Linked DNA regions of Homo sapiens. The protein of the gene in region 1 interacts with the protein of each later gene in a pairwise test. Each region holds a gene or a part of one and is shown in the gene's direction. Other genes may lie near its edges. The genes, in order: ADIRF and RPS6KA6.

Region 1 (3,916 bases):
GAATATCTGAACCCAAGAGGTTTGACTGTAGTGCCTGCCGCTAGGGCCACGTGGAGCTCTCTCTACCACCATCTGCTGGGGGCTGGCTGTCTCTTCCCACAGAGGCTGCTCCCTTCCTGTCCAGCTCACAGCTCATTGCCCATGGGGCCTGGAGCCCAGTGGCACCACCAGCCTGTGATAAACTGGAACACTCGAAGGCCTGCCTGGCTATTGGGCACTACCGGTGGGATTTCAGGAGGGCTGGCAGGGCTGTGGCCAGCCAGGCAGGGCATGGCTGAGATGGGCTCCCCAGAGTCCCCAAGGCATCCATATGGCCGCTCCCAGGGCAAGGCCTCGCTCTGGGAGAGGAGGGGCGGGGGGCTGGGAGGACTGTTGCTGCCGCTTTGTTTTGCCTGAGACCTGCTCCCTCCCCCTTCCTCCACCTAATCTCATCACCTGCCTCTTCCCTTTGCCCAGGGTTGACCTCATCTCCATTAATCCATACCGTGTGTGTGTGTGTGTGTGTGTGTGTGTGTGTGTGTGTGTGTGTGTGTGTACAGGTGCACTTCCAAACAACTCCCTCTAGGGGCTGACCCCGCAGCACTAGAAGCAGGGTATGTGCCAGCAGACCAAGCCTGTGTGGCAGGGGCTTCCCAGCGCTCCAGAATAGGGGAGACACCAGCAGAGGTGCAAGAAACAGCCCCGGACAGGAAGCGGTAGAGAGACCCAGAAAGGCAGGGTGGGTGTGCACTGGCCTCCAGGTCCTGAAGGCCTACTCTGGAGTGGGAGTATACCCAGCTGGGTGGGGCCTGACCTACACCCCTTGTGTGCCAGGGGAATGTATCTTGCAAGCTGTTTTGCTGCACCCAAGGATGATCTTCTCCACTCAGGCCCAGGTCCCTAAGTCCCCTCCTAACAGCCACAAGTCATACTCTCTAGCGCCTTGCCTGCCCCATCTCAGGAAAGGTGACCTGAGAGGCCCAAGCTTATTCCTGCCCTCCCTGAGCCATGCTTCCTGCCCAACTTCCTAAGGCTTCGGTGACAGACGGCAATCTCCTTGCCTGGGCTGCACAGGCACACTGCCCTCTCCCCCTTGGGGTTGCATGGTCTGCAAGTGCACACACCTGTATCTCGCCCTCTCAGGGGAAAGATTTACCAGGCCCTCTCCGGCTGCATCCACTGGGTCTCTGGCTACAGGCAGAGAGCCAGTCAGCAGTGCCCCTGCAGCTGTTTGGGGCTGGGGGCTCCGATGATGCCAGAGCCCTAGGGTTTACAGGCACCTAGGCAGATTCGAGGATCCAAGTCCCTGCCACATGCGTTTGGGTGAGACCGACCTCACTGCCTCAGTTTCCTCCTATACACTGATGCTATCAACAAAAATACCCACTTCAGGAGGTGGTTGTAAAGATTATACAAGAGACTGCAGAGCGTTAGGCAGCACCTGGCACAAGACAAATGCTCAGTAAAAGACCACTGCTGTCATTAAGGTCAACACCAGCCCTGAGCTCCTGCCCTGGAGCTGACCCAGCGCTCACGCCCAGGATCAGAAAGGGAGGGCTGGGGCTGATGAGCTGGGAGGTGGTGTGCGCCCTTCTCCTGCCTCCAGCTCCTCTCTGGACCCCTGTCCTGGCACCTCTTCGGTCCCTGGTTCGGTCTGCCCCTTTCCCACCGCGGCCCGTCTTAGGCCAGGATGTGCTCCCTGCCCTGCGGACTCTGGAGCAGGGCCCGGCCACTCCCCGGAGCCTGTATGACGGGAACCGCCCCGCGCCCTCTCCCCTACGCGGGGCAGGCCAGCCCTGGGGCGCCTTAAAAACCGGAGCTGGCGCTTGGCATCGCCACTCTGGGCAGGATCCAACGTCGCTCCAGCTGCTCTTGACGACTCCACAGATACCCCGAAGCCATGGCAAGCAAGGGCTTGCAGGACCTGAAGCAACAGGTGGAGGGGACCGCCCAGGAAGCCGGTGAGGATAGCGCGCGACCTAGGGCTCAGGCAGGGGCACCTGCGTGGATGCGCAGGCAGAAGCAGCGGGTCGGCGCGGTCCGCAAGTTCCTGGACCGGCAGCTTGGCTCGGAAGGCTCGGTCCTCCACTGAGACGCAGGGGGCAGGCAGAACGCCCACCCCGGCGAGCAGACAGATGGTGCCCGCAGGGAGGCAGCGGAACAGAGGCTCCGGAGGAGCCGGAGCTGCGCTGCGGGCACTGCGGGAGCCCCTCCAAGGAGGCCATGCTGGCGCTGGGCGGCCCGCCCAGGCCCTCAGGAGAGGGTGAAGGTCCAGGACAGGGATCGGGCGCGGCCCGCCACCACTTAAACCCGCGCGCGCCACCAGAGGCTGCCCCAGACCTCAAAGGGCTTTGTTTCCATCCCACCCCCATCGCCGAAAAGTAATCGTCGCCTTACCTTTAAGTCCCCACCTGGCAAAGAAGGTCCTTAGTTCCTCCACCTCCAGCTCTCTCCTCCGTATTCTGGAGGTGACCCAGCTGCGGTGGGGGCGTGGGAGATGTCAGGAGACCACTGGGTTGGTTCTTCCTGCACCTAGCCCAGGCTTCGTTAGGACTCCAGCTCCCTGTCAGTCCTGCCCATATCCCAGTCAGGAGACAATATCCAAACCAACCCCTTACTTCACCAGTGCTCCAGGGGAGGCCCACAGTTCTTCCCTTGAGACTGAAATGCTACCAAGGAAGCCTCCGTGTCAGGTCCCTTCCTTCTGGGCTTCACTTTTCCATCTGAGAGCTGGGTGCAAAGGATGGGCTGCTTTCTGATGGGTTAATCGAGACGAGGTTCCCAGGGGCCTCTCAGCACACTTGCCTGACTAACCCTTTCCGGAGGATGGGATCTGGGTAAGGCAGGCCCTTTCCTGTTCAGCAGCAGGGATGAGTTACAGCTCTGTAGGCGGGAGCCACCTGTCAGCCCCCCCGGGGCTGGTGACTCCATTCCCAGCAGGCCGAAACTCTGGTCCAGAGGAGATAGTCCGGCCTTGGAAGTTTTGCCTCCTTCCTTCATTTGTCTCCTAATGTCTTAAGCTGCCTGTCCACAGAGGCACTGGCTTTGCTTGTGTGCCCCTCCGGGCAGGCCACAGGAGGGAGGAGGCAGTAAGGACCTGGCAAAACTGCAAGCCCCAGGGCTAAGTGCATGAAAGGTGGGAATTCAGGCATCTGGGCCAGGCTTCTAGGGGAGAAGCTGTAAAAGGGGGCAAGGGTCTTCTGCGCCATCACCAGCATTAGCCAACAGTCCAGATGCTAGCTGCAGCCTGGCCCTGCCCTGCCTTCCTTCCTCTGTCCAACATTTTCTCAGTAGCCCTGGAGATGGAAAGGGAAGCTCCTCCCCCACAGAGAAGGAGCTCAGAGTTAGAAATAAACAAAAACATCCCAGAGGCATGGAAAGGTCTCCTGCCCCTCGGGCTGGGGGGCCCTGGGCCAGGGACTTTATCTCCATGGCATCCATCCCTTGGACCTGTACCACCGAATACTCTGGAGGACACAGAGGCATGGCAATGGTGGGGCACCTGTAGTCGGTGGTGCCTCAACAGGGGCTAAAAGCCACATCTCTCTGTTCCAGTGTCAGCGGCCGGAGCGGCAGCTCAGCAAGTGGTGGACCAGGCCACAGAGGCGGGGCAGAAAGGTCTGGTGGGGCTGGAGGGAGGCGGGCAACCCCAGCACACCTCCCACTCCCCGCCCCATCCCGGCTGGGGCCCAGGCACATCCTCTCCTCTGCAGAGCCCTCTGTCCACAATGCCCCAAGCAGGTCCCCCGGGAGACCCAGGCCAGGCTAAGCCTACAGGCACTGTGGTTCCCGGGCCCTGCCTGACCTGCCCTCTCTCCCGCCCTTCCCCAGCCATGGACCAGCTGGCCAAGACCACCCAGGAAACCATCGACAAGACTGCTAACCAGGCCTCTGACACCTTCTCTGGGATTGGGAAAAAATTCGGCCTCCTGAAATG
Region 2 (3,816 bases), on another chromosome or scaffold:
TTTGGTATTTAATAAAAGAAACTATACATATTCTGTTTGTAATGTAAATAATCTATACCCCATGCACAAATATCTGTTTCCTGGGTGTGATATATTAAAGTATGTATTCTTATTTTGAGGTATCTTTTGGAAATAATTGAAAGAGATTAAATAACAATTTATGCCACATGAAAAATAATTACTTAGAAGTAGTTAGGTATCATGTCTTATGGCTTTTTATGTTCCATTTTGGCTTTTTTTCTCATTTGCTTTATTACTATATGTACTTGCATGTAACAGTTTGTAAGCATATATTCTGACTTATTTTCCTTCTGTCATTATCTAGTGCTGTTATGCCTTCCTATCAGAATCGATAAGTCAAACTCAGAGGTGTGATTTTGGTGTTGAAGTTTTCAGGACAGAGATACTATTTCCATGGATGCATTTTAAGTAATAAAATTAGGGGAAGTGAAATCAGAAAATGAAAAATGATTACAAAATAACTTTCAGGTTTTCTATAATCAATGGCTTTAAAAAGTAGACAGTCTTAATTAATTTTAAATTAGCTTGCTCAGAAAGGTCATGCCATACAGTCCTATCATAAAAGGAACACTATAAGAATTAAGCAATGAACAGCATGATTTCTGATCACCCAGTGAGGACTGACAGTGTATAAAAGATACAGGTATGCTACTGGATGTACCCGATAATTGTTTGAGAGTTTTCTAGTGAAAAACTCAAATATGCTAGCTTAACCACAGTAGTAGGGGGCAACCTTATTATATGGGAGAGCTTCAAAACATACTGTCATTTTGTAGAAGGAGCCCAGGTAAGGATGCCTAATCCTGTCCAGTTTGGCTAGAACTCCATAGCCAAAAATGCAGATTTGGATTGAACATTTTTTTGATGGGACTTCTATCAATGCTTAACTAGTAAAAACACATCTTTTCTATAAGACTTTAGAATACTGTGGTTTCTAATGGGTTCTTGAATAATGATTTTGCATTGTGTTTTTCTAGTTAATGGTTTTTGGTAGTATTTAATGATAGCACAGTTTGGGGTTTTATTGTTCTTGAAGGGGGAGGATATTGAATTTGTTTTTCTTAGAGAAAACATCAGGTTTGCTCAAATAGACTAACAACCTGTTGTCCTTAAGCACATACTACCATGAATAAACTCAGGAAACAATTTTCAAGAAAATTCGAATGCAGTGCTGGTGATGGGGATTTTTGTGGGAAAAAACAATGGTTTCAAGTCCTTTCACAAAGATCAAACTTCAGCCTATTTTGTTAGACTCAGCAATGTCTAAAACAGTGTTTTTTGTAATTTATTGTCATTGGTAATTCAATATAATAAAACAATTTTGATAGCACCTCTGTTTGGCTCAAAGGGATTCCATATGTTTAGGCAACCCACAACCTTAAGAACAGATGCTTGGTATTTATAATGTCTGCCCATTGGAACAACATGTTAAAATAGTACTGCCCAGAGAAACTTCCATACAGATTGACTAGTATTTTCTAGATAGAGGTCTTTCATATATGAAGAAGGAAAACAACCATTTATCTTGGCCCTAAGGCCCACAAGAAAACTTAGGCTTTAAAGTGGGCAAAGCATATTTGTGGTATTCTGTACATTCTCTTTCTCCTGGCTTTCCAGCCCCTTCATGCTATCTATCTTATTTGAGCACCTCACAGCAATACTCCATCAACGAAATTTACCCTATCCCCAGAAGGATTCTGTGTGATCCTTACTCCTTGTTCCTTCCTCTTCCTCTTCCCCAAATCAGGATATCCATTCTATCAGAACAGACATTTCCAGCTAAAAAGGTGAAAGGAAAGCTATCTTATTAAATTAATTTACATTTTTCTGTCAGTGGCTAATAGTTAATTGGCATTTTTTAAGGAAGTTGTGCATTAATCAAGTTTTTAGTTGCTGGATCTTCAGGCAATCTAACAAGGTGATAATTTTAAATTCAGTTCCTATCACGGAAAATATTTTGGGGGAAAGGAACAGTGTGTCCCAGGGTCAGAGTATCTAATAAACTGTTTCTTTTTTTGCACAATTTCCTTCCTACTTCCTTTCTACTTCTCAATCTACCTTTTCTCTTAAAAACTTTTAAACTTTTTAATCACAATGAACTTCTATGACAAAATGATGTGGAGGTAGACAGAGATTGGCGATTATTTCTGTATATGTTGTTTTTAAACCCATAGTTTTGTATTCTTGTTTCTCACAGTACATGACCTATATAGCATAAGAAGTTTTATTCCCCCCACCCCCCATCCCATTCCTGTTATAAAGAAAAAAAAAAGCACAGAGAGATTGAATCCAAACTACTCATGGAGTCCAAATTTTTCCAGATCCCTTTTCCAGATTTTAGGACCTAGAAATCCTTTAAGTCACAATGTTATTTCAAAAAAAAAAAAAAAAAAATGCAAGCCATATTAAGTATATATTGGCCAACTGCAATTAAACTTCTTTAAAACATTTTTGTTTTACATTTCAAAGCTTATTCAGGCATTTTTGGCATGTACCTCAAGATCAATGATTGTTGAAATTAGCAGAATAAATCAATAGTGGGCTATTTGCCTTTTTATGTGGGAATATAGTGGCATTGATAGTGATTATTCACAACATACATTATACTCATGGATGCACTGTTCCTGGTTTTAGTCTTACAGTGTAGTGAATTCCATCATATACTTTCAATAAAATGTTATGCTTGATCACCTAAAATTCAGTTTGGTTGCTAATACATAAGAGAAAAGGGAACTATACTTGAATATATTAAATTATAGACATAAGTTTCTTTGAAATATTTAGAAAAACAAAAGTTTTAGAATATGGAAATCCAAGCTTACATTATATTGGCAAATTATGTATGTTTCAATTATTCACTAAATAAATTTTAGCTAAATGCTTATAAATAAATATATATATGTAATTGCCAAGTTAGGGTTTGCTTTGTATTCACATTTCTAAACGCTGGACAATAGAGCTTCTGTGGATGACTGTTTTGCTGTAATTCCAACTGTCTAGTTATGGGAACTAATAATTTATTCTTCAAAAGGTATTAAGCATTTAATTTTACGTGGACAATTATAGAGAATGTACTAACTGCATTCGTTTATTAAAAAATTGTCAAAATGTGACTGATTAGGTTACTTTTATCTTTCCTATGAACTAATATTGCTCAGGTCACATTTTCTTTCTCTTTCCAAATTCATTCTCTCTGAAATTGCTGCTTATAACAAATATGTAGTGTTTTGTTTTTTAGTATGATAAAATTATTTTTAACAGCAGGAAAGCAGTCTATCAAGAAACAGCCGGCCGGGCACAGTGGCTCATGCCTGTAATCCCAGCACTTTGGGAGGCCGAGGCGGTGGATCACCTGAGGTCAGGAATTCGAGACCAGCCTGACCAACATGGAGAAACCCGTCTCTACTAAAAATACAAAGTTAGCCAGGTGTGGTGGCGCATGCCTGTAATCCCAGCTACTCAGGAGGCTGAGACAGGAGAATCACTTGAACCTGGGAGGCAGAGGTTGCGGTGAGCCGAGATTGTGCCAATTTCACTCCAGCCTGGGCAACAAGAGCGAAACTCCGTCTCACAAAAAAAAAAAAAAAAAAAAAAAAAAAAAAAGAAAAGAAACAGCCATTTAAAAAGTTACACATTAAACCTTAAATATCCAAATTCCAGCATGGTTTGTAAGTTAGAATTTATCTTGCATTAAATTCCATAGTACAAAAAAAAGGAGAAGGTGGTTTTTCTGTTTGATAAAAAAAAAAAAAAACAGGAAGTACTGTTGGTAGTTGGGAGTTACATAGGCTTTAT

What was found.
Region 2: the proteins of ADIRF (region 1) and RPS6KA6 interact in a two-hybrid assay, tested with the Homo sapiens proteins (one large-scale study listed by BioGRID and IntAct).

The regions. Positions count from the first base shown.
Region 1 is NC_000010.11:86,966,666-86,970,581, forward strand, and holds the start of ADIRF (adipogenesis regulatory factor), read left to right. Parts: upstream 1-1,816; 5' UTR 1,817-1,879; coding exon 1,880-1,940; intron 1,941-2,376; exon of another isoform or gene 2,377-3,534; coding exon 3,535-3,597; exon of another isoform or gene 3,598-3,810; coding exon 3,811-3,916. UniProt on the Homo sapiens protein: Plays a role in fat cell development; promotes adipogenic differentiation and stimulates transcription initiation of master adipogenesis factors like PPARG and CEBPA at early stages of preadipocyte differentiation.
Region 2 is NC_000023.11:84,058,923-84,062,738, reverse strand, and holds part of RPS6KA6 (ribosomal protein S6 kinase alpha-6), read left to right. Parts: 3' UTR 1-3,816. UniProt on the Homo sapiens protein: Constitutively active serine/threonine-protein kinase that exhibits growth-factor-independent kinase activity and that may participate in p53/TP53-dependent cell growth arrest signaling and play an inhibitory role during embryogenesis.